Regions from separate parts of the Homo sapiens genome. Here all the other regions are linked to region 1. The links come from fine-mapping of genetic effects on gene expression. A gene starts in region 1. Each other region holds a variant in brackets. All regions are shown on one strand. Distances are between the middles of the regions. Region 1 holds the start of PGM2 (phosphoglucomutase 2). Region 2 has its middle 39 kb from the start of PGM2. Region 3 overlaps PGM2 (phosphoglucomutase 2). Region 4 overlaps PGM2 (phosphoglucomutase 2).

Evidence for each region. PIP is the estimated chance that this variant, and not a neighbour inherited with it, causes the effect.
Region 2: its variant is fine-mapped to the expression of PGM2 in monocytes after R848 (Quach 2016, PIP 0.95).
Region 3: its variant is fine-mapped to the expression of PGM2 in whole blood (INTERVAL, PIP 0.92).
Region 4: its variant is fine-mapped to the expression of PGM2 in whole blood (INTERVAL, PIP above 0.99).

Annotation. Positions count from the first base shown.
Region 1 is chr4:37,823,076-37,830,615 of GRCh38, forward strand. PGM2 (phosphoglucomutase 2) reads left to right here and starts at 3,611. Exons shown (of 14, transcript NM_018290.4): 1 at 3,611-3,738; 2 at 6,889-7,056. The coding sequence starts at 3,658. RefSeq lists enhancers at 2,080-2,249, 3,282-3,783, 3,784-4,283 and a silencer at 3,494-3,793.
Region 2 is chr4:37,784,248-37,791,787 of GRCh38, forward strand. No RefSeq gene overlaps it. Among named protein-coding and RNA genes, the nearest start is that of PGM2, 39 kb to the right of the region's middle. RefSeq lists an enhancer at 3,096-3,595. The variant A/G (reference allele first, on the strand shown) is at 4,251.
Region 3 is chr4:37,843,983-37,851,522 of GRCh38, forward strand. PGM2 (phosphoglucomutase 2) reads left to right here. Exons shown (of 14, transcript NM_018290.4): 7 at 382-571; 8 at 1,651-1,748; 9 at 2,949-3,129; 10 at 3,220-3,313; 11 at 4,540-4,669; 12 at 6,202-6,391. Among named protein-coding and RNA genes, the nearest start is that of PGM2, 21 kb to the left of the region's middle. The variant G/A (reference allele first, on the strand shown) is at 4,052.
Region 4 is chr4:37,852,913-37,860,452 of GRCh38, forward strand. PGM2 (phosphoglucomutase 2) reads left to right here. Exons shown (of 14, transcript NM_018290.4): 13 at 2,696-2,829. Among named protein-coding and RNA genes, the nearest start is that of PGM2, 30 kb to the left of the region's middle. The variant A/C (reference allele first, on the strand shown) is at 2,244.

The DNA of each region.
Region 1 (7,540 bases):
GCTTCTTGGTGTCTCAAATGAAGTTAAAATATTTCTGATTGGATATCATCTTGGGCCCACAATTTCTAATAAAATAAAAGGTGCCTGGCCAGGTGTGGTGGCTCACGCCTGTAATACCAGCACTTTGGAGGGCCGAGGTGGGTAGATCATGAGGTCACGAGTTCAAGACCAGCCTGGCCAACATAGTGAAACCCCGTCTCTACTAAAAATACAAAAATTAGCTGGGTGTGGTGGCACACACCTGTAGTCCCAGCTACTCAGGAGGCTGAGGTAGGAGAATCACTTGAACCCAGGAGGCAGAGGTCGCAGTGAGCCAAGATCACGCCATTGCATTCCAGCCTGGGTAACAGAATGAGACTCCATCTCAAAGAAAAAAAAAAGGTGCCAAAATAACTTCCTTAGACACCACTCCCCACATGTTTTGAACCATAGTAGAGACTCAGCTGCAACCATCCCTATCACGGAAGGACAGATGTGAACTCTGAGGCCCAGAACTGCTGGATATTTAGAGACCCACCAGCTCCCGTCCTACCTTGGCAGAAGGCTGGAGGCTGCACAGACTCATCTGGGAAAACTGGCATTTGAGATAAAAACAAGGGTGAGTGAGATCTGCCTGGGTCTGTGATTCTCCATGTCCTGCAATTTTTTCCAGAGCATGACTGAGAAGAAGGTTTATCTGGTGCAGAGAAAAGAGATAGCCTGAGTGTGGTGGACCTGCAGACCACCTAACATTTGGGGAAACTGAGGCAGACTGTCCTTCTCTTCTTCTCTGTGCTCCAGCCTCTCAGGTTTTGCAGTCAGGGGAAGGACCACACTCTCACATTAACTACATCCTTCCCTCACATCTCTCTTAAGCTTCCAGTGCTCAGGCAAGCTTCCTGACTGAGGTGGCCTCTGTTAACCTGCAGCCTCATGACATCTCTCTGCTTTCCTTCCAGCATTTTATCAGTTTGTAATTACGTATTAACTGCCGTGATTACATGATTAGTATGCCTTTCCCATGACACTAAACAGATATTACAGATCCTGGATATATATTTTTTCTTTTTAAAATTGAAGAACACACTAGCCGGGCGCGGTGGCTCATCCCTGTAATCCCAACACTTTGGGAGGCTGAAGTGGGCAGATCACTTGAGGTCAGGAGTTCATGACCAGCCTGGCCAACATGGCGAAATCCGTTCTCTACTAAAAATACAAAAAAAAAAAAAAAAAGTCTGGGCCTGGTGGCTCACACATATAATCCCAGCTACTCAGGAGGCTGAGGCAGGATAATCACTTGAACCCAGGAGATGGAGGTTGCAGTGAGCTGAGATCCCACCATTGCACTCCAGCCTGGGTGACAGAGCAAGACTGTGTCTCAAATAAATAAATAAATAAATAAGCCGGGCATGGTGGCACGCCCCTGTAATCCCAGCTACTCAGGAGGCTGAGGCATGAGAATCTCTTGAACCCAGGAGGCAGAGGTTACAGTGAGCCGAGATCACACCACTGCACTCCAGCCTGGGTGACAGAGCGACACTGTGTCTCAAAAAATAATAATAAAATAAAGTTGAAGAACATACGGAAAATGCACAACTCATAAGATTGCAGCTTAGTGAATATTACAAAGTCAACACACCTGTTGACCATCGTCCAGGTCAAGAAACAGAACAGTCCCGGAACCCCAGAAGGCACTTTCCCTCCTTCCCAAAGCTACCACTCTGCTGACATCCATAGGTTAGTTTTGCCTCCTTTTTAGTTTTTAATCTTAAAACTTAAAAAAAAGAGATATAACTTACATACAGTGAATTTTACCCTTTATATCGTACAGTTCTATAAGTTTTGATAAAAGTAAACCCCAAACTCAATCAAGATACGGAACAGTTCCACAACTCCCTCAAATTCCCTTGTGCCCTAGGTAGTCAACCCCTCCCCCAACCCCCAGCTCTTGAAAATCACTGATTTGTTTCCTTTACCTATAATTTTATATATTTCAGTGTTTTTTTTTTTTTTTTTTTCAGGGTCTCCCTCTGTCTCCCAGGCTGGAGAACAGTGGCACAATCAGGGCTCACTGCAGCCTCGACCTCCCAGGCTCAAGCGATCCTCCCTCCTCAGGACTCCCTCCAGCTCCCCCACCACGAAATAGCTGGGACTACAGATGAATGATGCAGTATTTTGGGGTGACGGGGTATGGGGGTGGGTGTTTGAACTCTGTCACTCAGTGTTTGTGAGATTCATTCATGATGTTGTGTATAACAGTAGTTCACCTGCATTGCTCTATCAATGTGCCATGATTTATTTATATGAATTGGTATGGATATACTACCAAGTATTTATCCATTGTATTGTCGATGGTCATCTGGGTTGTTTCCAGTTTGAGGCTTTTACAAATAATGCTGCTAGAAATATTCTTGCCCGTGCTTTTTTATGCTTATGGGTATGCATCTTCTTTATGGCTTGGTGATACCAGCGTCAGGAAGATGTGCTCCTATGTTAGTTTCCCTAAGTTTCACGCTACTATGGAAAGAGACCACCATTTCTGCTGTCCTTCCCAGCTTCTCCCCCACCTCCCCTTTTCCCTAGTTTATAAGACAGGAGAAAAGAGAGAAAGCAAAAAGTTGGAAAAAAACAGAAGTAAGATAAATAGCTAGACGACCTTGGCGCCACCACCTGGCCCTGGTGGTTAAAATAATAATAATAATATTAACCCCTGACCAAAACTACTGGCGTTATCCGTAAATTCCAGACATCGTATGAGAAAGCACTGTAAAACTTCTTGTTCTGTTAGCTGATGTATGTAGCCCCCAGTCACGTTCCTCACGCTTACTTGATCTATCATGACCCTTTCACGTAGACAGACCCCTTAGCGTTGTAAGCCCTTAAAATGGCTAGGAATTTCTTTTTCAGGGAGCTCGGCTCTTAAGACGCGAGTCTGCCGACGCTCCCGGCCGAATAAAAACCTCTTCCTTCTTTAATCCGGTGTCTGAGGAGTTTTGTCTGCGGCTCCTCCTGCTACACTACCTTTCGCACTTAGAGATACAATTGATCTGGAGTTCAGAGCTGTGTGTGATGGGAGGTAGGGGGCCAAGTTCCCTTTTTTCTTTTCCCTACGTGGATATCCCTTTGACCGAGCACCATTAACCAAAAATAGTTCCTTCCTGTGCTCTGCAGCCCCGCCTCTGAAATAAATTGTCCATACACGTGTATTTTTGTTTCTGGTCTCTATCTTATGTTCCACTGGTCTTCCTACTTTGCTTTTCTTTTTCAAGATTTTTTTCTGGCTGTTCTTGACCCTCTGAGTTTCTACATAGTCTTCAGGCCCCTATCTGGGTGCACTTCCTGGTATCCCAGCATCTGACATGTGCCTGGCGCGCAGCAGGAACTCACGGCTGGCTGTAGCCTGGATGCATCAGAGACGATGGCAAACCCTTCTCACACGTGCCAGGTTCCAGCAACCCACCCTAGCCCCGCAATTCCTCCTCGCTCACTCCCACCCCCTGCAGCGCACCCGCAAACGGCAAGGAGGCGTGCCCGCCGCGGCGCGCGTCACTTTCCCCCGGACCGACTGGCTCCGCCGCGGCTCTCCCCGCCCCCGCCTCCGCCTCCACGTCTTGGGGCCGGGCCGGAAGGCAGATCTCACCGCCTGCTTCCCTCTGCAGCGGTAGCACAAGCTCAGCGATGGCGGCTCCAGAAGGCAGCGGTCTAGGCGAGGACGCCCGGCTGGACCAGGAGACCGCCCAGTGGCTGCGCTGGGACAAGGTGAGGGGCACCAGCAGGCGGGGAGCGCCTGGAGCGGGGCCGGGTGCTCTGCCCTCTCCAGGCGCGGCGCTGCTTGCTCTGCCTGAGCTGCCTTCCCGCCCAGTGCATCCCGCTTCTCCCCCGGGAAGACCCAGGAGCGTACGGCCGCTGCTAGGCTTCCTTCGACCTGGCCGGCATGCGGCACGTTCAGAGTTAGGCCGGGAAGGCTTGTCCCCGGACGAAACCAGCCATCCGGCCGGCCGGACTGCAAGTTCGGAGTAGAGGAGCGAGCCAGGGTGGTGTAAGCGCGGCCAGACCCTGGACGCTGTCTAGTTGAGGGGCGCACGCCTTACTGTCACTCAGACCGCTGGCTCGTCGTCGGTAGTCGGCTGTGCATCCCCATGGACCCAGAATCGCTCCGTCCCGCGTATTCCTTTGGCCGCTGAGACCTTTGCAGAGCAGCGTTCTGGTCCGGTCCTCCCATCCCGAGGGCTTGGTTACAAACGTGGGTTGTCCTCCCGGGTGGGCCCGCCTGGCTTCAGGAGTCCCCCTTAGAACTTTGACTGCCAGGGAGGCACACCTGGGACACAGCACGGTTTTCTCTCTCTTCATTCCGTTTCTTAGAATCAGGAACCCAGCTCTGGACATCACTCCCTCTCCTCTCTATAAACTTGCGTCTCGCCCTTTCGACCTGTTCTGCTTGCTGTTAGGTTTTCTCGGAATGTCCCTCGCTGCTCTCCTGCTGAACTTGTTTCTCCCGTTGTGACTCATATTTTGTGCCTGAACTTAAATGTGGCTTACGTAGAGAGTCAGTCCTTCCTTGGCTCCGAAGCGTTAAATTATTTATCCCTAATATTCACTCTAAACAGTCTGTTATTTTCCTTTATAGCTCTTACTACAAATGGTAAAAACAAAAAACTCCAAAAACACTTGTTTGTAGGTTTGTTTAATGTCTGTCTCCAGGGCCGACTTCAGGGGCGAGAGACCCCTGCAGTCTCACAGGACTCGCGCTCCTTGAAGGGCCCACTGTTGTTTTAATGTCCTGCTGTCCTGTCTTGAAAGTCTTACTGGTAAAACAAGAGGTCACCCACTTTCATTGTGCACTGGACCTCCATAAATTATGTGGCCAGGCCTCTCTATTCTCACTACCTTGGTTTGTAGTGCCTGGCATAGGCATAGTGCATGACACATAGTAGGTCACTGAAATACTTGAATGAACAAAGAAGATTACAAGGTCAGTAGGGGTCAGGTCTTTGTCTTTATTTACCATTCTCTGGCCCCTACAAATAAAATGTCAGCAAATCCCATTTCCAGGATGCTATTGGCAACTCCTTGGGGGCGTTTTTCTTTTCCTGGGAAGATAACCTTGTGATTCACAAGGGAAGAAAAATGTTTCCATTTCTGATAACTTGTAGCTTGCAGAGTACAGAATTCTTTTGAAGTCAGAGTTCATAATGCACTTTCTCTAAGAAGAAGAAGAAAACAATCTAATTTCTACACAGTGTTGCATCTGTGTATAGAAAAATTGTATTTCTCTGGGTAGAGATGAGATGTCCTTTTTTTTTTTTAATCACTTCTCATGTTCTATCCTCTGTTAATTTCTTCTTTGCTTTGAGACTGGCACCTGAGAAGAAGCCCATTCATTCTCCAGTGAACCTCCCACCAGCTAAAAGCATTGCAGCCCTCTAGTCAGACTACCCCCGGCGACTGGCAAGGCGCCCTGGCAGGTGCCCTCTGTCTTTCCACCGTGCCTTCATCCCTGCTCTTTTCTCTGCTGTCAGTTTTGCTCACTGCCAGGGCTGATTCTGATCCTGCTGTACTCTTGACTTGTCATTCTTACCTGTCTGTCTCCTTTGTTTCTCTCAGGCTACTTAGTCTTTCATAGATATCAAAGACCAATTAAGATTTTCCAGACCTACACTATGAACAAGGGAGGATCACTCGATATTGAGTGTGGCAGTGAAGTCCATGTTTTCTGATTCACTCCACTAATATTTATTGAGGCTCTTTTATGAGCCTCTTTTATGTACCTGATCTGAGCCTTTCTTTGGGGCACCTGACAATCTGATAGGTAAGACTGTGTTCTGTAATTAGCATCTGCTGTTTTTCACCAAAAAAGATGGGGTTTACTTGATTCCCATTGAATCTGCCACAATCTGGAAATGTGGGCTTAATTCCAGAAAGCCAAGGTTTTATTGCAGTAGTATTTCAAAGTTTAATTAAATGGCCACGTCCTGCGTGAGTGCTCATCTAAATGGATAATGACTGTAAAACAGGAATATAAAGTCCTTCCTCTGTTGTTTTCCTGAATTCATAACTTAAAAGTCTCATATGAAACTAATGTGATTGTCATTATTTTTCTCCAACCATAACATTTTCTGCAACTACCATACAAAAAAAAAATAGGGCAATGTATAATGAACTTAAATGAATCATGTTAGCGTCTATTTGAAGCAGTTAATGTTATAGAAAAGGCACTAGATTAATGTTTATCTTGCAATTTAAGCAAGTCACCCAATCTCTGAGGCTTCCCCATCTATAAAATTGGGTTTCTGTTATTTGTCTACTTCTTGGAGATGTTACAATATTCAAACTTGACCAGGTATGTGAATGCCTGGTATGAATTATAAAACATTACAAAAGTAAGGTTTTGACTTAAGTTGTGTAATCTATCACTCTGGAAAATTTGAGGGCATTAGGGAAAAAAATGGACATTTAATCACAACTAAATGCCAGGTAGAGAAAGATATTTTACATTAATTTGAAGTAAACCACCTTAAAACCTTAAAAATCGTGTAAGGGAGGTTCTAGATTATTCCCATTTTGCAAATAGGGAAACAGAATTTGAGAACTGGAATAATCTGCGCAAGCACCTAGAGTTGGCAAGTGGTATTCTGGGATTCCATTCTGGGGGTTAGACTCATATGCTAAAATCTCTACTTTGATTTCTCCAAAGGTGCTTACCTTGACAGGAAAGAAAAGAACACTTACATTATAATGTCAAACTGACTTCATATTTCAGATTTCAAAAGCATCAGAAAATTGAAAGGTCTACATATATATATATACATATATATATATTTTCTATAGATTAGAATGATTGTGAATTTTTTTACATTTCTGATTTTTCATTCACTTGTCTGGCTGTGTCTATACATTTTTGTTTTTCAGAATTCCTTAACTTTGGAGGCAGTGAAACGACTAATAGCAGAAGGTAATAAAGAAGAACTACGAAAATGTTTTGGGGCCCGAATGGAGTTTGGGACAGCTGGCCTCCGAGCTGCTATGGGACCTGGAATTTCTCGTATGAATGACTTGACCATCATCCAGACTACACAGGTACCATGTTTTTTATAATTCTTAGTAACTCAATGTATCCCCTAGCTCATTTTCTATTTGGCAGACCTAATTTATTCTAATTATAGACATGTCTTACCAGCTTGGCTAGACACAGGAAGTCACCACCATTTACTCCATAAAGTAAGGCTTGCACAATAGGTCGAAGTAGCACTTATTCAGGACTCATATAGCCATCCATCCATTCATTCATTCATTTAACACACTTATTGAGTACATACCATGTGCCAGCACTGGGGATATAAGAATGACTCGAACAAACAGATTCTCTCATGGAGCTTTCATTCCAGTATAAATGCACCAACTAAGCTGACAACTTTTAAGGTCCTGTAATTTTTGCCATGATTACATAGCAAGTGCTAAAAAGCTTTTCTAACTGCCGGAGTTACCAAGAGCCTGTTCTCCTTTGTTTTATAGTATGGATTGAGTCTGTCTTAATTTGTGAATATTTTTGTCAGAATCTAGA
Region 2 (7,540 bases), 39 kb before region 1:
CAGCCTTTAAAGTACAGGGCAATTGCTAGACAAAAACAAGCGAAATGAGGATGGACTAGAAGGAGAAAAACTGAAGGCAGACAGACAAGACATCTATGGAAATTTCAGGAATGGCAAGGGAGACATTAGTGATAGGGACGGGGGCAGAGAAATTCTAGGCAAACAGGCAGGTCCCCAGTGAAACCCCATCCTCAAGCCAAAAAGTCTGCAACTGTGGCCCAAAATGAGAATTTTTATCCCTGTTTTATCCCTGTTTTCCCACTCAAATGTTGCCTTTTTCTAAACTACCCATGGCCCCACCCCACCCCATCCTGTGCCTATAAAAGTTCCAGCCAGTAGGCAGGAACTATGGCTAGATGTTGGAGAGAAGTGGCTTGTCTTCAGAGAGACAACTTGTTGGTGTAACTTCAGAGAAGAATCTGGCCAGAGACAGCTGGACCTCAGGGGAAGATTACCTTCCCTCACTATCCTCTTTTCAGCCCTCCTTCCTGCTAAGAGTCACTTTCATTGGCAATAAAATCCCCCTGCATTTACCATCCTTCAATTCGTTCATGCAACTTCATTTTTCCCGGATGCCAGATAAGAGCTTGGGAGACACAAGCGTGGATTCAAAAGGCTGTCACACTGTCCCTTTGCTTTCACAGGTGGAGGGCAGCTGCCTCACATGAAAAGGCAAAGGGCCTGAGCTGTTAACTGAGCTGTTAACACTTAAGCCATCCAAAGATGGCAGAGCTAAAAGAGCTCTGTAACACTCCCTCTGGGGCTTTGGGGGTTGCAGACACCCCTGCCTGGATGCTGCTGTGGGGCCTGCATGGAGTTTGCTCCTGCTGGCGCTAAAGCATCCAGCCAGTTCCTGCACCTTCTCACCTGTCTGCTCCCTCCTACAAGGGCTGGAATGCAGCAGGTCTGAGTGAGTGGAGTGTGATCCCACCAGTGCCAAAGGAGCTGATTCCAGCACTCATCTACTCCAGTTGCCACACTCGTTTGATCATGTGCTCCCTCTCATGAAGAGTTGAGAGTGGTAGGCTGAGTAAATGAAGCACACCTGTCACAAGTCCCTCGAAGGGGTCAGGGAAATATCCTGCTTCACTAGTAGTGATGTTAAAGAAAGGACTGCGTGAAAGTGTCAAATTTGAAGACTGTAGGAGAGGAAGAATTAGCAGGGGTTGGTGATTAACTAAAGATCAGTAGAAGCTGGACATCAACCATGAAATCTCAGTGTTGTGACACATCCCATCCTTCCAATCTGCAGTCTGTGGAAGCCAAAAGCTCTCACCTGGATTCTGTCCATTCTCAAGGGCTGCATTTCCCTGGATTCTTCTCCTCTGTGACCTCTTTCTTTCTCAAGAGCTGCATCTGTTCACACCAGACAAACTCCCAGTGGAAAACTCATCACTCTCTTTGATTTCCCAAACTAGCTCCTACACAGCCCACATTTATGAATTCCATAAATATGGCAGATATTATAGGCTTGGTTGATCCAGCACCATGCCTTCTCCCTTGCCTGCATCTATTATAGAAGATATAAAAGCTAAATTATTTCCTTTCATCCCTTATATTCAGGGAGGCCACGTGATGCAAGTAGAAACTTGGTGAGGATATTTCTGGGAAAGAACTAACTATCTTTAAGTTAGTTAATTCTTAAAGAAGAACATGGCCATTGTTGGTACCTTTTTCCTCATTTTCCTTCTCCCTGCCTTGAAATATAAACGTAATGTGTGAGCCCATAGCAACTACCCTAAGACCATAATGTGGCAAGCATGAGCACAAAAGCCAACAGAACAAGGATGGTAAAGTGGAAATATAGACAGTGTCTGGGTCCCTGATGGCATCGTTGAACAGCTGAATCCATGCCAACTGCTACATAGCTCTGATTTTAAATAAACTCCCATTGATGTAAGCGACCATGAGTCTAGTATTCTATTATTTGCAGCCTAATATGTTCCTAACAAACAAAGAACTCTTTGTTGTGATATTTTGGAGGTCCCAGGGAAGGTGAAAATTATGCAACTTTTCACCATCTTGCTTATCCCCTACTAATATGGTTTGGCTGTGTCCCCACCCAAATCTTATCTTGAATTCCCACATGTTGTGAGAGGATCCCGGTGGGAGGCAATTGAATCATGGGGGCAAATCTTTCCCATGATGTTCTCATGACCGTGAATAAGTCTCATGAGATCTGATGGTTTCAAAAAGGGAAATTCCCTTTCACAAGCTCCTCTCTTTGCCTGCTGCCATCCTTGTAAGATGTGACTTGCTCCTCCTTGCCTTCCACCATGATTGTGAGGCTTCCTTAGCCACATGGAACTGTAAGTCCAATAAACCTCTTTCTTTTGTAAATTGCCCAGTCTCAGGTATGTCTTTATCAGCAGCATGAAAATGGACTAATACAGTAAATTGGTACCAATAGACTGGGGCACTGCTGAAAAGATACCCAAAAATGTGAAAGTGACTTTGGAACTGGGTAACAGGCAGAGGTTGGAACAGTTTGGAGGGCTCAGAAGAAGATAGGAAAATGTGGGAAAGTTTGGAACTTCATTGAGACTTGTTGAATGGCTTTAACCAAAAGCCTGATAGCGGCATGGACAATAAGGTCCAGGCTGAGTTGGTCTCACATAGAGATGAGGGACTTGTTAAGAAATGGAGCAAAGGCGACTCTTGTTATGTTTTAGCAGAGACTGGGCATTTTGCCCTTGCCCTAGAGATTTCTGGAACTTTGAAATTGAGAGAGATGATTTAGGGTATCTGGTGGAAGAAATTTCTAAGCAGCAAAGCATTCAAGATATGACTTGGGTGTTGTTAAAGGCATTGAGTTTTAAAAGGGAAACAGAGCATAAAAGTTCAGAAATTTGCAGCCTGACAATGCAACAGAAAATAAAATCCCATTTTCTGAGAGGAAATTCAAGCCTGCTGCAAAAATTTGCATAAGTAATGAGGAGCTGAATGTTAATCCATAAGACAATGGGGAAAATGTCTCCAGGGCATGTCAGAGGTCTTCATGGCAGCCCCTCCCATCATAGGCCCAGAAGCCTAGGAGGAAAAAGTGGTTTTGTGGGCCAGGTGCAGGGTCCGCCTGCTGTGTGCAGCCTAGGGACTTGGTGCCCTGCGTCCCAGCCGCTCCAGCCATGGCTGAAAGGGGCCACCATAGAGCTTGGGCCATGGCTTCAGAGGCTTACACCCTCTGAAGCTTCCACATGGCAGTTTGGCAGCTTCCACATGGTGTTCAGCCTGCGAGTGCACAGAAGTCAAGAACTGGGGTTTGGGAACCTCTGCCTAGATTTCAGAGGATGTATGGAAACCCCTGGGTGTCCAGGCAGTAGTTTGCTGCTGGGTCAGGGCTGTCATGGAGAACCTCTGCTTAGGGCAGTGCAGAAGGGAAAAGTGGGGTTGGAGTCCCCACACAGAGTCCTTTCTGGGGCACCACCTCGTGGAGCTGTGAGAAGAGGACCAACATCCTCCAGAATGATAGGTCCACTGACAGCTTGCACCATGCACCTGGAAAAGCCACAGACAATGCCAGCCTGTGAAGGCAGCTGGGAGGGAGGCTGTACCCTGCGAAGCCACAGGGGTGGAACTGCCCAAGACCATGGGAACCCCGCTCTTGTATCAGCATGACATGGATGTGAGACATGGAGTCAAAGGAGATCATTTTGGATCTTTAAGATTTAACTGCCCTGCTGGATTTCGGACTTGCATGGGGCCTGTAGCCCCTTTGTTTTGGCCAAATTGTCCCATTTGGAATGGCTGTATTTACCCAATGCCTGTACCCACATTGTATCTAGGAAGCAACTAACCTACTTTTGATTTTACAGGCTTATAGGAGGAAGTGACTTGCCTTGTCTCAAATGAGTCTTTGGACTGTGGACTTTTGAGTTAATGTTGAAATGAGTTAAGACTTTGGGGGACTGTTGGGAAGGCATGATTTGTTTTGAAATGTGAGGATGTGAGATTTGGGAGGGGCCAGGGGCTGAAACCCAAATTCAGGGTTTGGCTGTGTGCCCACACAAATCTCATCTTGAATTCCCACATGTTATGGGAGGGACCTGGTGGGAGGTGACTGAATCATGAGGGAAAGTGTTTCCCATGCTGTTCTTGTGACAGTGAATAAGTTTCATGAAATCTGATGGCTTTAAAAAGAGCTTGTCGCCTGCACAAGCTTTTCTCTTTGCCTGCCATCATCCACGTAAGATGTGACTTGCTTCTCCTTGCTGTCCGCCATGAATGTGAGGCTTCCCCAGCCACGTGGAACT[A/G]TAAGTCCAATTTTACCTCTTTCTTTTGTAAATTGTCCAGTCTCGGGTATGTCTTTATCAGTCACGTGAAAATGGACTAATACACCTACTCTCTCTATGCTCTCTTCATTTTTCTCTCTTTCATTTCCCCATCTCCTCCGAAGAGCGAAGCGGAATTATCTCCTTGTTTTCTACAGAGCATTTGTGATCATGATGGATCTTTTTTAACTTAAATGTAACTTAGACATCTCTTCCTCCATTTCAAATATTTACCTTTTTTTTCCCCCAATGAAGTCAGCTCTCTCCCTAAAGAGAATTCTGATGCCAGGTGGTTCAGATAAAAATATCTTCTACTTTCCAACATAAAATATAAAGCATTTCTAAAAAGGATACCAGTGCTTAAAGTCCTAGAGATTGAAAACAGGACAACACTGCCACTATTGATAAGTTAATTCTGCATAGCAGTGAGAATCGATGACAGTGTTGACTCTGTTGGAGTGCAGCATGCTGTCTATTAAAGGCTGAAATATTGGACTTCTCTCTCCAGCCAAGGAAGGTCGTTACTGTGGGGCTTATTCTGTAACTGCCCAATGGGTTCACCTTGCCAGCTGCCTAGGCAGAGCTGATTTATCAAGACAGGGAAACTGCAATGAAGAAAGAGTAATTCACACAGAGCCGGCTGTGCGGGAGACCAGAGGAGTTTTATTATTACTCAAATTAGTCTCCCTGAGCATTTGGGGATCAGAGTTTTTAAAGATAAATTGGTGGGTAGGGGCTCAGGAAGTAGGGAGTGCTGATTGGTCAGGTTAGAGATGAAATTATAGGGGGGTTCAAAATGAGGTTTTCTTGCTGTCTTCTGTTCGTGGGTGGGATCACAGAATTGGTTGACCCAGATTACGGGTCTGGGTGATGTCAGATGATCCATCGAGTGCAAGGTCTGCAAAATATCTCAAACACTGATCTTAGGTTTTACAATAGTGATGTTATCCCCGGGAGCAATTTGGGGAGGTTCAGACTCTTGCAGCCAGAGGCTGCATGACCCCTAAACTGTAATTTCTAATCTTGCAGCTAATTTGTTAGTCCTGCAAAGGCAGACTGGTCCCCAGGCAAGAAAGGGGTCTTTATGGGAAAGGGCTATTATCAACTTTGTTTCAGAGTCAAACCATAAACTAAATTATTACCCAAGGTTAGTTCAGCCTATGCCCAGGAATGAACAAGGACAGCTTAAAGATTAGAAGCAAGATGGAATTGGTTAGGTCTGATCTCTATCACTGTCATTTCCTCAGTTATAATTTTTGCAAAGGTGGTTTCAATTCAACTGAGCATGCTCCCAGTATCTTGCACCTCCACTTTGAGATGATACTTAAACCCCAGAGAAAAGCCATCTGCCTCAACCAGCTGCACCTAAGACCCTGCCCTGAGCTTGATCAGCCATGAAGTGCTCACCAGATGTCATGCCAGGCCCCTATTGACTCCGATAGGGATGGCACCATACCCTAGAGGGCAAATAAGAGACCTGGAGACAATGAATGAGACATAGGGTTTATCAGGGAAACTCCATACAGGAATGGCCCAGTGGTGGCAAGCTGGACAGTAGCACCATTACTGTTTATAAAAAGCATGCAGTTTATACAGCATTTTCACTTAGGACCCTCCTCTCAGCAACCTCCATTTAACCCAAAACAAAGGGCCTCAATCCCTTCAATCTCTGGGTTGGCCACTCCTGGATTCCTTAGCTTGGAACTCCAAACACACATGCTTCTTAGACCCTAAAATCATTCTCAGGGTATGTTTAAATTATTGTTGTAAGGTGCATCTGCCATATACCAGGTAAAAACATGAGAATCTGTACCACACTGGGCTCAGAAAGTTCGTGTGTTCAGCCAGCAGAGGTCGGCTGACAAGACCATCTCAACCTTGGCTTGGAAAAGCTCAAGACAGTTAGTGGCTTCCTCAGAAATATGAATCTGTGTGTTCTCTACCAAGCAATAATTGAGATTACTAGGAATAATTGAGAATGTACTTCCTGATGAATGAGGGAGTACAGGGAACTTCACCTTAAAATTTGGCTCCTTGGTGTAAGGAATGAATTAAAGTCCCTTAGAGCTCAGCAAAAGCTGGAAGAGACTTTTTCTCTAGCTACATAAAGACAGGACAGACCCACCAAGGAGAATAATGGTTTTTCCTTTCCTTCCCTGTTATCTCATTATCTTTTGCAGAAAAGAAGATCACAAATGTAACCGCACCTGAACAGACTCTTTCACAAGATAATAACTGTCTCTCAGGCTCATTCTGTTTTCAAAGAGAACCATTTACAAGTTAATCTCCACTCCCATCCATTCATTCTCCCTAGTAATCATGTACTGCCCCTAAACAGAATTACCTATATTCCCCATCTCTCCCCCAGCCTCTGAAATAAGGCTATATAAGTATCTGGGCCCCACTGGGATTTGGGGGTGATATGGTTTGTGTGTTTCCCCACCCAAATCTCATCTTGAATTGTAATTCCCACAATTCCTATGTGTTGTGGGAGGGACCTGGTGGGAGATTATTGAATCATGGGGGCGGGTCCTTCCAGTGCTGTTCTCATAATAGTGAATAAGTCTCATGAGATCTGATGATACTAAAAAAGGGAGTTTCCCTACACAAGCTCTCTCTTCTCTTGTCTGCCACCATGTGAGATGTGCCTTTCACGTTCTGCCATGATTGTGGGGCCTCCCTAGGCAAGTGGAACTGTAAGTCCAATAAACCTCTTTCTTTTGTAAATTACCCAGTCTCGTGTAGGTCTTTATCAGCAGCTTCAAAATAGACCAATACAGCAAATTGGTACCAGCAGAGTGGGGCACTGCTAAAAAGATATCCAAAAATGTGGAAGCAACTTTGGAACTGGGTAACAGACAGAGGTTGGAACAGTTTGGAGGGATGAGAAGAAGATGGGAAAATGTGGGAAAGTTTGGAACTTCCTAGAGACTTGTTGAATGGTTGAATGGCTTTGACCAAAATGCTGATAATGATATGGACAATGAATTCCAGGCTGAGGTGGTCTCAGCTGGAATAAGGAACTTGTTAGGAACTGGAGCAAAGGTGACTCTTGTTATGTTTTAGCAAAGAGACTGGTGGCATTTTGCCCCTGCCCTAGCAATTTGTGGAACTTTGAACTTGAGAGAGATGATTTAGGGTATCTGATAGAAGAAATTTCTAGCAGCAAAGCATTCAAGAGGTGACTTGGGTGCTGTGAACAGCATTCGGTTTTGAAAGGGAAACAGAGCATAAAAGTTCAGAAAATTTGCAGCCTGATAATGTGATAGAAA
Region 3 (7,540 bases), 21 kb after region 1:
TCGCTTTGGGGATGTGTGGGTGTGTGGAGCCCTGGAACTGTCCCGGGCTGGCTGTAGCACTGTCAGGGCACCTGTCAGGCCAGCAGTGAGTCTCGTGTGGGAACATGAGCTTGAGGTTCTTCTTTGTATCTCACTCTAGATGGGATGCATAAAACAAAACCTGAAATAATCAGATTTGCTGAAAATAACTACAGAGTAGAATTTAAAACTTGAGTATGTTGAGGGAAGGAATATATATATCTGGGAGAGAATGGATACGTTTTGTTTTTCTGAAATGGAATTAGAAAGATGTTCAGTTGTCTTGTGCATTCTTGCAAACCTTGCAGTTTTGAGAGCCCTGTTTCTGCCTTGTATCATTTTCCACTGTGTATCTGATTCTAGGAGCGTGAACAGGGAGACAAAGGTGAAGTTTGTGCACACCTCTGTCCATGGGGTGGGTCATAGCTTTGTGCAGTCAGCTTTCAAGGCTTTTGACCTTGTTCCTCCTGAGGCTGTTCCTGAACAGAAAGATCCGGATCCTGAGTTTCCAACAGTGAAATACCCGAATCCCGAAGAGGGGAAAGGTGTCTTGGTAACCTAATTTTTTTTTAAATTATGAAATCTGCTTTTATATTCAAAACTATTACTGTCAAGTAAAATACATTTTTATGTGTTTTCATTGTGCTGAAGAAAAACTAATTTCAGCATGGAAATATGTATGTTTGGCTGGGTGCAGCGTCTCATGTCTGTAATCCCAGCACTTTGGGAGACCAAGGCAGGCAGATCACTTGAGGTCAGGTGTTCGAGAACAGCCTGGCCAACATGGCAAAACCCTGTCTCTACTAAAAATACAAAAATTAGCTGGGTGTGGTGGTACATGCCTGTAATCCCAGCCACTTGGGAGGCTGAGGCGCTAGAATTGTTTGAACCTGAGAGATGGAGGTTGCAGTGAGCTGAGATTGCACCACTGCACTCCAGCCTGGGTGACAGGGTGACAGAGCGAGACTTTGTCTCAAAAAAAAAAAAAAAAAAAACAAGAAGTATGTATATTTGTTAGTCATTAATTTCTTAAAGGATCTTTCAAATTAAACACCCCAGGATCAGGATATGAGAACTGAGCTCTAAATGGTGCTTCAAATTCAGTTAATTTAATTTAATTTAATTTGCCGTGTCTCCTTAATGCCAAAAAGAAGCAGTAATAGAGTGAAACTTTAGCAGGTTATGATTTTTATTTCTTGTCATTTTTCTGATATGAAGTGTTGCTTACATTATGGTTTCTGTAACATTTTTAAAGGTTGGGGTAGCAGTGGCATTCAGAGAATCAGTTTATTTTGTTTTATTTGTGAGGCTGATCACACAGCAATGCCCCGAAATACCAGTCCAACCACAGACCTACTGGCGCATGTGCAGCAGGCACACTGGTAGGCTTGGGTCACACACCGATGCTCCCATTATCTGACCTCTGACTTAGGAAGATACTATGTGACCAACCAAGACCAGCTGCAGCTTTTGTTTGCTAAATTTCACTTCTGGAGCTGTCTTGGTTGGTCCTATATTATCTTTCTAAGAGGGGAAAGACCTCTTGAGTTCTTAAGGAACTGAATGTTTTTAAAGACTATCATATGCTCGATTCTTGATTAAATAATCTTTTATTTTCATATTCTTCTTCAGACTTTGTCTTTTGCTTTGGCTGACAAAACCAAGGCCAGAATTGTTTTAGCTAACGACCCGGATGCTGATAGACTTGCTGTGGCAGAAAAGCAAGACAGGTAAAATTAATTGTGATTACCTATATTATAGAACATATAAAGGATGATCTCTTCATTGGTAAAATGTTTCTGGGGAGACGGGACCTATTTGGAAACATTTCCCATTTATTTTGCAAATGATCATTTCACTGAACCTCCTGTAGAGTCTTCTAATGGAGAGCAAGATAGAGATCTAGTGTGGGGGGAGGTTACGTGATTGGCAAGCATAATGCAGAGTAAATCAACCCAGTATATATTTCAAATTGAAACTCCTATTTGGGAACTTCTCATTTTGTAATTGATCTTTTTATAAGTAATGTCTCAGTGTCTAATGAGGGTAAAGCACTTTGGTGCTAGCTGTATGCTTCAGTATTTGCTGAGGGGTTTAGGAGGGAGCAGTACCTTCAAGGAGATGCTGAATTTAGTTTGGACAGACCAGGGAGGAATTCCTGTGGGGTATCGGCACAGTGTTTAAGACAAGTCTGACCAGAGAGTTTGTACAAAGGAGAAGTAAGTACGTGGGGCTAAAGTTGAAAGGTAGGCAGGGCCCAAGCAATTTTGGGCGTCAGGTAGCCTATGTGATGTTTTGGGGGCAGGAGGGTGCTGCTGCTGAAATGGTAGGGTTTTCAGATTGTGATAAAACAGGTTCCATTCTATATCAGTGTTGAGAAAGTTAAGCTAAGATGATACGTCCTGATAGGTGAGATTTACTTCTAGCCATCTGGACTGCCAAGAGAAGCAGAAATTACACATCTTTTCTCTGATGTTCTGACCATTTAGGACTGAGCTTGATCTTAAGGGGTACTGAGCTGTCCCCTCTCAGAATCAGCAATACTGACCAGTCCAGAAATTGAGATAGCAAAACTTACTCTATATATGGGGGATCTTGCCAGCATATTTGTTATATTTAAAACCAAAGGCTTTGCCAAAGATTAATATAGAGCCATTGTGTGTCATGTGTGACATACTTATTTTATACAGTCTTCAAAGACAGGATGTCTGTTCAGGCAAACTGGCTGATATATATGGTAGCTGCTCAGATGTTTGTAAAATGGCAGTTACATTTCTGACCAGTTATTTAAAGATGATGAATAACAAGAACAGCCTTGCAGAAAATACTTAGATGCTTTGTTTGCTAAATTGTTTTATCCCCATGACACTTTAGAGTCTTCCTTAAGATTATGGAAATGAATGGTGGTTGTTGTTTTTTTTTTCTTTCAGTGGTGAATGGAGGGTGTTTTCAGGCAATGAGTTGGGGGCCCTCCTGGGCTGGTGGCTTTTTACATCTTGGAAAGAGAAGAACCAGGATCGCAGTGCTCTCAAAGACACGTACATGTTGTCCAGCACCGTCTCCTCCAAAATCTTGCGGGCCATTGCCTTAAAGGAAGGTTTTCATTTTGAGGTAGGGTGTTTCTGGGACTCACTCATTTTCCTTTCATCTGCTCTGTAGAAGATCTAAGGCATGTCTTTCTCTTTTGGATTATCCCTTTAGGAAACATTAACTGGCTTTAAGTGGATGGGAAACAGAGCCAAACAGCTAATAGACCAGGGGAAAACTGTTTTATTTGCATTTGAAGAAGCTATTGGTAAGAAGTGATCATGAACATTAAGGAATTGGCTGCAAGGCAAAAGGAAAAGGTTTGGATTGGGATTCAAAGATCCACAGTGAAACACGGTTTATTTTGCCTCTCCAGCACTCAGGTTGAATGTCGAACTGTCCTACTCCAAAATTGACATCTCAGATGATTTACAGCCAAAAGGAATGTCTTAAAAACAACTAAGTCATTCATGTCAGAATCCTTTGCCTGGATGACTCAAAACAGTGACATTGTATGCTTGGCTGCCGGTACATGTATTTTGGGAGTTGTGATGTTTCCTCCACTGTGGTGGTTAATATCCAGGCCTAAACACTGTGGTATTTAATGTCCCTCCTCCTCCAAAAGTGCTAATGAGGATCTATGCTACGGTCTAGCCAGAGGAAAGGAGAAGGAAGGCATGGTTTGCTGCTGTCATCAGAATGATACTCACCCAAAAGGATGACCCAGGTCCAGCCAGAATGACAGAAAAACCCTTGTCCTAAACTGTCAATATAAATGAACAGAAAGGAGAACTAGCTATAGAAATTTGAAACTCACATTGTACCAAACGCTTTTAGCTATTAATTTAGTAAAAACTATTATGCATTAGATTTATTTATATTCATTTGTATATTCTCTGCAACACTAACACATGATTTAACTAATCAAAGCATAATCGCTCAGGTTCTGCTCTTTTATTGTCAGATTTGGCAGACTTGTCTTTCCGTAGCTTTTTATTTTAAGAAA[G/A]ATTTTCTTTCATTTATCAAGTATTAATTGCATGTCTATTACTCAGTGACTCTAAAAGAAATGGATGGCACTGACCTTAGCCTACAGCAGCTTAGATAGATTTAGTTAAGTAATCACACACAAGAGTAGAGGCCAGATGTCAAAATGAATAATGTAACTAACAAATACTATTGGGATTCAGAGAAGAAAGAGATATGTATTGACTAGGACAATTAGAAACAATTTCATGAGCTGGAAGGAGTTTCATGACTCTAGTGATTGAGCACCATGTGGCCAGGAGGGAAAATCTTGCAGGTTCTTCAGCAAATACTTCTTGAAGGCCTGCTATGGGCTAGGCACTGGGCTAAATTCCTAAACATAAGGTATTAATGAGAAATGTGCATACACGCAACACTGTACAACCTCTAATATGCAATAGCCAGGATTCATACTCATATGTGGTTTGACACAGTATTGTATAGATGTATGTATGACGTGTGTTTCTGCAGGATACATGTGCTGCCCTTTTGTTCTGGACAAAGATGGAGTCAGTGCCGCTGTCATAAGTGCAGAGTTGGCTAGCTTCCTAGCAACCAAGAATTTGTCTTTGTCTCAGCAACTAAAGGCCATTTATGTGGAGTAAGTTGTTATTGACTCTGTTGGATTGAAATAATATTTTGAAATGTTCTATTATATACTTATGCATGAGATACTAATATCCTTTCTAATGCTCTTATTTTGGTGATGAATTCTATTTCTTATAAAAATTAAATAAGGCTGGGCACAGTGGCTCATGCCTGTAATCCCAGCACTTTGGGAGGCTGAGGCGGGTGGATCACCTGAGGTCAGGAGTTCGAGACCAGCCTGTCCAACATGGTGAAACCCCGTCTCCACTAAACATACAAAAATTAGCTGGTTATGGTGGTGGGCACCTGTAATCCCAGCTACTCAGGAGGCTGAGGCAGGAGAATTGCTTGAACCTGGGAGGCAGAGGTTGCAGTGAGCCGAGATCGCGCCATTGCACTCCAGCCTGGGTGACAAGAGCTAAACTCTGTCTCAAAAAAAAAAAAAAAAAATTTAAAAAAACTAAAGAGATCACCTTTTCCTTTTGATATGTAACAAGTTAGTAATTACTATTCCCGATCGCATTAATTCTTAACAAATGACAACATGAAAGAATGTGATTTTAAGTGTCCAGTATCAAAAAAGATTGAATGTCTTCATAATACATCTATTCATTTTTTTGTAGCACTTACTCAACTCTGCCTTGCCAGTGTAGTGCGTAAGCATCCAAAGAGAATACAGAAATGCGTGTGACCTGGCTCTCTGTGCAAATGCAGGCGGAAGACCAGGCAGTCATTTGGTGATCCCTGGGGTAGATTGTTGGACCTCTTTTTTTTTTTTTTTTTTTTTTTTTTGAGACGGGGTCTTGCTCTGTCACCAGGCTGGAGTGCAGTGGTGTGATCTCGGCTTACTGCAACCTCTGCCTCCTGGGTTCAAGCAATTCTCCTACCTCAGCCTCCCGGGTAACTGGGATTATAGGTGTCCCCACACCTGGCTGATTTTTGTACTTTTAGTAGAGTTAGGGGTTTCACCATATTGGCCAGGCTGGTCTCAAACGCCTAACCTCAGGTGATCCACCCACCTTGGCCTCCCAAAGTGCTGGGATTACAGGCGTGAGCCACTGTGCCTGGCCTAGACCTCTGTTTTAATGGTCTTTTAAAAATTATTCCTTTGGCGTCAGTTTTGGCTGTTACATTTATTTTATTATTTATTTTATTTTATTTTATTTTTTGAGATGGAGTCTCTCGTTGCCCAGGCTAGAGTGCAATGGCACAATCTTGGCTCACTGAATCCTCCACCTCCTGGGTTCAAGCGATTCTCCTGCTGCAGCCCTCTGGAGTAGCTGGGACTACAGGTGCCTGTCACCATACCCGGCTAATTTTTGTATTTTTAGTAAAGACGAGGTTTCTCAATGTTGGCCAGGTTGGTCTCATACTCCTGACCTCAGGTGATCTGCCCGCCTCGGCCTCACAAAGTGCTGGGATTACAGGCGTGACCCACCACACCCAGCCATATTTATTTTAGAATACACTGGTTGGTACATGTTCTGTGTCCACCCTACAAAATTATTTGTTCCTCATGTGCATGAATTTGTATTTGTTTGATAGGTATGGCTACCATATTACTAAAGCTTCCTATTTTATCTGCCATGATCAAGAAACCATTAAGAAATTATTTGAAAACCTCAGAAACTACGATGGAAAAAATAATTATCCAAAAGCTTGTGGCAAATTTGAAATTTCTGCCATTAGGGACCTTACAACTGGCTATGATGATAGCCAACCTGATAAAAAAGCTGTAAGTAATGTCTTCTCTTTTCAACTAACCTCTTTTCTATTTACCTTTTAAAATAATTTGAATAAATTATTTAACCATACAATTAATTGAAGCTGATTTTAGGCACTTAGGCGTGATTATAAATAAGCTATAAAAAATATATGGAAGCCGGATGTGGTGGCTCATGCCTATAATTCCAGCACTTTGGGAGGTTGAGGTGGGCAAATCACTTGAGATCAGGAGTTCGAGACCAGCCTGGCCAACACGGCAAAACCCGGTCTCTATTAAAAAATACAAAAATTAGCTGGGCGTGGTAAGTTAAAAACCGCAGGCTAGAACTGAAAGAGACTCTACTAGGCTGGGAGCGGTGGCTCACACCTGTAATCCCAGCACTTTGGGAGGCCGAGGCAGGTGGATCACTTGAGGTCAGGAGTTCAAGACCAGCCTGGCCAACATGGTGAAACCCCATCTCTACTAAAAATACAAAAATTAGCCAGGTGTGGTGGCTCATACCTATAATCCCAGCTACTCAGGAGCGTGAAGCAGGAGAACTGCTTGAACCCAGGAGGCAGAAGTTGCAGTGAGCTGAGATTGCACCACTACACTCTAGCCTGGGTGACAGAGCAAGACTTCATCTCAAAAAAAAAAAAAAAAAAAGAGGAACTAGTCATCAAAGCCTGTGTGGTCATTTCGCACCTTAGGCAATAAGTGATCAGAAGTGTGGAACCTGTCTGTGGACACAGAGCTTAGTTGGTGGTGGTCCAGGGAGAATCTGGGTTTTCTATCTCAGGATCCAGCATTCTCTCCCTGTCAGGAGTTCTCACACTTGCAGGAGCATCAGTAACCAAGAAGGCTGGGGAAACAGAGTGCTGGAGCCCACACCTGGACTTTCCGATTCAGTAGGTCTGGGGTAGGAGCCAAAAATGTTCATTTCTAACAAGGTCCCAGGTGGTACTGATGCAACTGGTCCTCACTTTGAGAACCACTGTTTGTTTTCTAGTTAGTGTACTCTGTTCTCTGAGTGTATTGGAGCTGTTGGCTGTAAAGCCTGAGTTTGCATTCTTTACACCAAGCAGATCTTTCACTGGAGACAAAAGAAGACACAAAGGTAGCAGAAGAGTGTTGCTTTCTATGTTGGGGTTGGGGGAGGAAAGTTAAGAATATCCTTAT
Region 4 (7,540 bases), 30 kb after region 1:
TCTTGATTATGTATCAGGAAAGGGAGCTAATTGGTTATTTTTTAAAATAATCACCTCCCCTGCATTTTCAGTTCTTTGTTTCTTGAAGAGCTCTTAGATGCTGGCTTTCCAAGACTGATGTTCTACTTTTCTTGTTTCTTTCTTTCTTCTTCTGTTTTTCTGGGAGATTTCCTTAGCTTTAGCTTTCAGTGCCTCTGTTGGCTGTTTCAGTTATAACTAATTTATTAAAAATAGTGTCCTGTTGAAACAGTGTCTTGCTCTTTCACCCAAGCTGGAGTGCAGTGACATGATCATAGCTCACTGCAGCCTTGATCTCCTGGGCTCAAGCAATCCTCCTGCTTCAGCCTCCTGAGTAGCTGGGACTACAGGTGTGTGCCGCCATGCCCAGCTAAGGTTTTTTAGTTTAGTAGAGACAGGATCTTGCTGTGTTGCCCAGGGTGATATTCCTTTTTTTTTTTTTTTTTTTTTTTAATGTAAACAATATCTTACCTCTCTAAGGATTATAGACCTAATTATAGTTTTTTAAAAATATATGTCTTCTTTTTCTGCTACATTCTCTTTATTTCCACCAAGTTCTTTTTATTCTGTTTGTTTTGGACTTTGTCTTTTACATGATGTCTTTCCCCAAAAGTCTGATGATCCTTAATTTTCCTTTGGGCACCTAAGAACTGATTGGAAGCTCTGTGTACATATGCAGATCAAATGACATACTTCACTCAGAGGATATTGGTAGCAAGTTAACTTTATAAGGGGATCCCCCTGATTTAATGAGACCTTAATCACCTACCCAAGGATGATAAGATGAGATGCCAAGGCCCTGGAGGCATGACTGGGGCGGAGCTGGGGGTGTCAGCCTGAGGACTTCTACTTGATCCCTCTGTTTTCATCATGCCCTGCCCAGGTTCCCCAACTCCTGAATGTTTCTGATTTAATCTCCAGAGAATTTAAACCATCTCCTGCAGAAATGGAGAAGAGGTGGTTCTGTGACGGTGTGGGCTCAGGGCAAGGAACCGGGATGGTCTAAGAACTTCTTTCAAACCCTGTTCCTGCTTTCCACCCCTGCCTCACATCTGCCTTTTGCAGTACCTGGTGCCTCTGGTTCTTGAGCTTGGCCAGGATTTTGCAGAGCACCTTGCCTCAGTTCTCATCCATGTCTCCTTCCGCAGGCACTCAGATTTCATTCTCTGGGTCCCACCAGACCAGTTCTGTGCCTCCATCTGTTTTCTGACTTGTGCGATCGGTTGGCAGCCCCATCAGCTGCTACCTCCTCTTTGTCTCTTTGCCCGTGTGTTTATGCTATTCAAAGTACCTCTATTTTAATGGAGTTTTGGGACCTATCAAATATAAATATACCATTTCCTCAAGACCATTTTTCTTTTCTAACCAGTAAATTTATATGGCATTTATTTTTTCTTACAGAAGCTTCCTTTTTTTTCTCTTTTTCTTTTCTTTTTTGGAGGCATAGTTTCACTCTGTTACCCAGGCTGGAGTGCAGTGGCGCAATCTCGGCTCACTGCAACCTCCACCTCCCGGGTTCAAGTGACTCTCCTGCATCAGCTTCCTGAGTAGCTGAGATTACAGGCACCCGCCACCATGCCTGGCTAATTTTTGTATTTTTAGTAGAGACGGGGTTTTGCCATGTTGGCCAGGCTTGTCTCCAACTCCTGGCCTCATGTGATCCGCCCTCCTCGGCCTCCCAAAGTGCAAAGTGCTGGTATTACAGGCATGAGCCACCGCGCCCAGCCTGGAAGCTTTATTTAAAAAAAAAAAACAAAAAAAACTCCTTATGGAATTTTCTTTGCAAAGATTCACTTTATAACAGTAAATATAATCTAGTTTGAGGTTTTTTTTTGTGGTGTATTAATCTGTTTAAGTCAATATCTTGTGAAATGATGTGTTTAAATAAAACTTTAATAACTTCAATAGAACTAGGGAAGTAAAAGCTAATACACAAAGTTACTTAATTTTCTTTATTTAAAATTAATTTAGTTATGTTAATTCACAAATAAAAATTGTATACATTTATGATGTACAATCCGATGTTTTAAAATGTATACATTGTGATAGCTAAAATCAAGTTAATTAGAATGTGTTACCTCACATATTGATCATGTATTTGTAGTGAGAACACTTAAAATCTACTCTCTTAGCAATTTTCAAGTATACAATGCATCATTATTAACTATAGTCACCGTATTGTACAATAGATCTCTTGAACTTCTCTTCTGTCTAGCTGAAACTTT[A/C]GGCCCTTTGACAAGCATCTCCCCAAACTCCCCTCCCTTATCCCCACCCTTCCCCAGTCAGCCCCTGGTAACCACTATTCTGCTCTCTGCCTCTGTGAGTTCAACCTTTTCGGATTCCACATGTAGGTGAGATCATGCGGTATTTGTCTTTCTATGCCTGGCTTATTTCACTCAACATAATGTCTTCCAGGTTCTTCCATATTGTTGCAAATGACAGGATTTCCTTCTCTTTTAAGGCTGAATAGTATTCCATATAGTAGACCACATATTCATAAATTACTATCGTTTAGTATTTCATTCATGTGGAGTACATTTTCTGATTTCCTCCAGAATGTTTTTCTTTTCTAACCAATAGATTTGTTTGGCATTTATTTTCTTACTTATGCAAGAGAAGATATTGGTTAGGCCAGAATGTTACTATTTAAATTTATAATGTGTGCATTAATTCCTAGGTTCTTCCCACTAGTAAAAGCAGCCAAATGATCACCTTCACCTTTGCTAATGGAGGCGTGGCCACCATGCGCACCAGTGGGACAGAGCCCAAAATCAAGTACTATGCAGAGCTGTGTGCCCCACCTGGGAACAGGTATGATGTGGATGGCAGCTGGTGTGATTTTTACTCCCCAGACTTCCTAACTGGTTCTATTCAAATGCCAAGTGAAATGTTCCATCTTTCTAATAGGTAATTTAATTAGAAATGCTGTTTCAGAACCTGCACTAATATTTTGGTATTAACAGTCAGTCTCAGCATCCAGGGAAAAGCTTACTTTTTACTTTCTTACTTTTGTCCTAAATTTCTTTGTATGGGAAAATTTTATCCTTATTTCAGTATAGTAGTAAAAGTGCCTTTTTCTAAACACTTTTCATTGGTAGCTAACACCAATGAGATTTTCTCTTTTTCTCAAACTTCAGTCTTCCCATGTCTCTGATAAAATAAATTATAATCCGGGCCGGGTGCGGTGGCTTACACCTGTAATCCCAGCACTTTGGGAGGCCGAGGCAGGCGGATCACGAGGTCAGGAGATTGAGACCATCCTGGCTAACACGGTGAAACCCCGTCTCTACTAAAAACACAAAAAATTAGCCGGGCGTGGTGGCGGGCGCCTGTAGTCCCAGCTACTCGGGAGGCTGAGGCAGGAGAATGGTGTGAACCTGGTAGGCGGAGCTTGCAGTGAGCCGAGACTGCGCCACTGCACTCCAGCCTGGGCGACAGAGCGAGACTCCATCTCAAAAAAATAAATAAATAAATAAATTATAATCCATTCCACATGCATTCAAGAAATATCTTTGAGTACCCATTGTAGACAGGTCTGTGCTGGGTTCTGGAGGGGGCACAGAGAGCCTCATCAGAGAGAGTCCTTGCTGCCAAAGAACTGATGGGCTGGTAGCTTCAGGTTCAAGTTTCTGTGACCTCAAAAAAGTGTTTGAGTTGGTCACTCTGTAACAACTTAACATTTTGCACCTTAACAAGCTCAGTGCTGTCCTTAGTGTGTGTAAGTGTGATACTGCATGCCTATCCAACATGCCGTTAACCAGCATTTCCCTATTCAGAATACAGTTGAAAATCAGGAAAAGTTTTTGTGAAAGGTGAATTAAGTCAGTGCTGTCTGACAGAACTAAAATGCAATCCACAGATGCAATTTTGATTTTCTACTTGTCACCTTTTAAAAGCGTAAAAAGAAACAGGTGAAATTAATTTCAATAATGTATTTTACTTAACCTAGTATATCCAAAAATTATTACAACATATAATCAGTATAAATATTATTAATGAGATGTTTTACATTCTTTTTTTTTCCTCTGGAAAAAAGTCCTCAAAATTGATTCAGTAATTTTACACTTACGGCATATCTCAATTTGAATGCTCCATTTTTATCAGAAATACTTGATCTGTAGAGTTAATAAAATTTAGATTAGACAAAGTAGATTTTAATACCCAGATTATTCCAAACATACTTGTTTTCTAATAACTGAATCAAGTATCAGTTTTAAAACTTGAACTCAATTAACTGAACTTCATAAAATTAAAAATTTAGTTTCTCAGTGGCGCTTGCCACATTTCAAGTTCTTAGTAGCCACATGTGTCTAATGGCCGCTGTAGTAAACAGCACCCATCTAGGTAATTGTGACAACATAGACAAACCAAAGCTTTGCTCATAGAAGAGTTTTTCCAGCCTCGTGAATCAAACTTGTGCAAATAAAAGCAGATGAAAATTCCTGAGCATCTTAAATTGCCAAGCTAGTAGCAGATTAAATGTAGCAAATTAGAGGAATGGGGAAGTATAACAAACTTTTCTTAGGCAAGGAGAAGTGACTGCTGATAGCAAGAAAGGAAATATTAAAACAAAACAAAACTATAAAACGTGGACACAAGGACTTAGAAAGCTCACCACTCCATGAGTTTATCATGAGGGAAATAGCATTCTACACCCAAGTGAGCCCAGAATACAGCTCCACTCCAACACAGTCATGCTTATGGCTCTCAAATGTCAAGATGTTCAATAAAGAGATATTTAAGAAGTCATGGGACTATGTAATATATTTTCACTATGGATTCCCATTCAAAACCTTTTTGTGCTTAAAGTGCAAAAACTCAACTATTAAGTGAACATATAAAAGCTCATTTTCTAAGAATTCTGGATTACCAATATTTTATTGTAATATTATGCAAGAATCTTGTTTTCGTGTGCATTAGATAGTAAGCTCTTTGCTGCTATATTGCATATAGTTTTTTGTAAACATTTCTTTATAATTCTTGCTTATTTAGTGTTTTCTTATTTCTATGTTTCATTCTTTTAAAAAGAAATGGACAGTCCAACTAAACAGTCCAACTTAAGGATCTGTTTTTTCTGTATCTTGTCCTTTCCTTTTCATTATCTGATGAAAATATATCTTATACTTCGGAAAGCTTTCCTTTGTAATGATAACACTATTTAAATGTTTAAGGCTTTATGGTATTAACATTTTTCACATGGCTTATTGAGTGGACTTAAATTCAAATATTAGCTTATAAATTAGTGAAAAAAACCTTGAAAATTTGTCCTTTTATTATATGCATTGAAACATTGCTTCCATTTATTAAATGGGACATTAAGCGCTATGTCAGTAGATGGATATGTGGTCACGGCTTAAGCAAGGCACCAGCATACCTAACGTACAACAGCAATAAAGTTTTTTTTGTTTTGTTTTTTGTTTTTTTTTTAAGACATCTCTCTCTGTTGCCCAGGCTGGAGTGCAATGGTGGAATCTTAGCTCACTGCAACCTCTGCCTCCTGGGTTCAAGCGATTCTTGTGCCTCAGCCTCCTGAGTAGCTGAGATTACAGATATGCACCACCACACCCAGCTAATTTTTTGGTGTTTTTTTTTTTTTTTTAGTAGAGACAAGGTTTCATCATGTCGGTCAGGCTGGGCTCGAACTCCTGGCCTCAAGTGATCTGCCAGCCTCAGCCTCCCAAAGTGTTGGGATTACAGGCGTGAGCCACTGCACCAGGCTAGCAATAATGTCTTCACTAAGATTTCCTTCTTTCCTGAAAAGCTTAAATATTATTAATATGCTTTATGTCATAAATTTCAATTATTCATAGAATTTCATGGCCTTCTAATCAACTAAAATGGAAAATCCTTTTCAAGTATGTGCTGCTTTAAAAATATATTTTTGTCAGGGGAGATGTCCTTAGTTTTGTCCAACTTTTTTATTTTGAACAGTTTCAAACCTACAGAAATGTTGGAATAAGAATGCAGTGAATACCCACACACCCTTCACTTAGACCAAACTTTGTATGTAAAGAGCCAGATAGTAAATATTTTAGGATTTGCAGACATGTGATTTCTGTCACCACTACTCAGCTCTGCTAATGTAGTAAGAAAGCAGCCATATGTATAAAGGAATGGGCAGGGCTGTGTTCCAGTAAAACTACATGAACCACAGTTTGTTGACCCCAATCCAGACTGAGCAATTGCTAACATTTTGCAATATTTGCTCTCTCACCATATATGTTATGTATTTGAGATTTTTCTGTACCATTTGAAACACTCTGTGATACTTCATGACACATCATAAGACTTCATGATGCTTCACTCCTGATATTTCAGTATGCATCTCTTAAGAACACTCTCTTAATATTAAGGCAAATAGATAATAATGGTACTAGGCAGGTTTCCAGTGGACCAACAGAAGCAGTAGAATGTACCTATTAAGAGATTGTTTGCAAGGAATCAACCTGTGCAATTGATTGTAGGGGCCAGCTCGGCAAGTCTGAAATCTGCAGGGCAGGCTGTCCAGAAAGGGAGCCTGGAATTCTTGGGCATGGGTTAAAGTTACAGTCTACAGGTGGAATTCTTCAGGAAAACCTCAGTTCCATTCCTGATGCCTTTCAGATAGAATCTAGCCCATCCACATTGTCTAGGATAATCTCCTTTACTTAAAATCAACTGATGATAGATATTAATCACACCTACAGGATACCTTCACAGCATCACAACATTAGTGTTTGAATAACTGGAGACACTATCCTAGCCAAATTGACACCTAAATCCCCAAAAGTCCCCAAAATAGCTGTTTTCTCCCCAATTTATAATCAAATCAAGAACACTGCATTGTATTTACTTGTCGTTTAGCTTAAATGTTTTTTCATGATGATTAGAGAAAAATGATACTTTCCTAAACATTCTGATAAAGAGATCCATCTAGATTCTTTTCAGAAACAGGAATTCCTAACCCTGGCTTAAATGATTATAGGATGTGTCCTGTTATTTTTAAAGATGTTATGAAATATTCTCAAGCATTAATTTAACAAATGGAACAGTTATCGATTAGGATGGAGAATAGTAACACAAAATTTTTGTTTTAAGAATTGTACCACTAAACCTTACACGGTGGTACTGATTTCTTTTTCACACATAAAATGCAATATCAAAAACATATCACTGCATACATGAATCGTAATGTTCACTCATGTCATGATTAAGAAATAAATTTGAATAATAAATTAGTAATCAGTAAATTCACCAAGTTTTAGTTTTAAGTATACTTTAAAAAATGATTAGCTTACATGCCTTCCTGAGAACTGTTATTTTCTTCAAAGCACATTTATGGAGAAGGAAAAGAAAACTGATATAATTCATATGTACTTAAAAAGCATAATTACTTTATATGTTGCCAGTAGGGATAAAAATAATTATAATGATAGCTACATTTATTGAGGTCTTTGGGCCAGGTTCAGTGCTAATTGCTTTATATAATTTATCGCAATCTGTACAGAAACTCTCTTGAGAAGATAAAGTCTTTATCCCAATT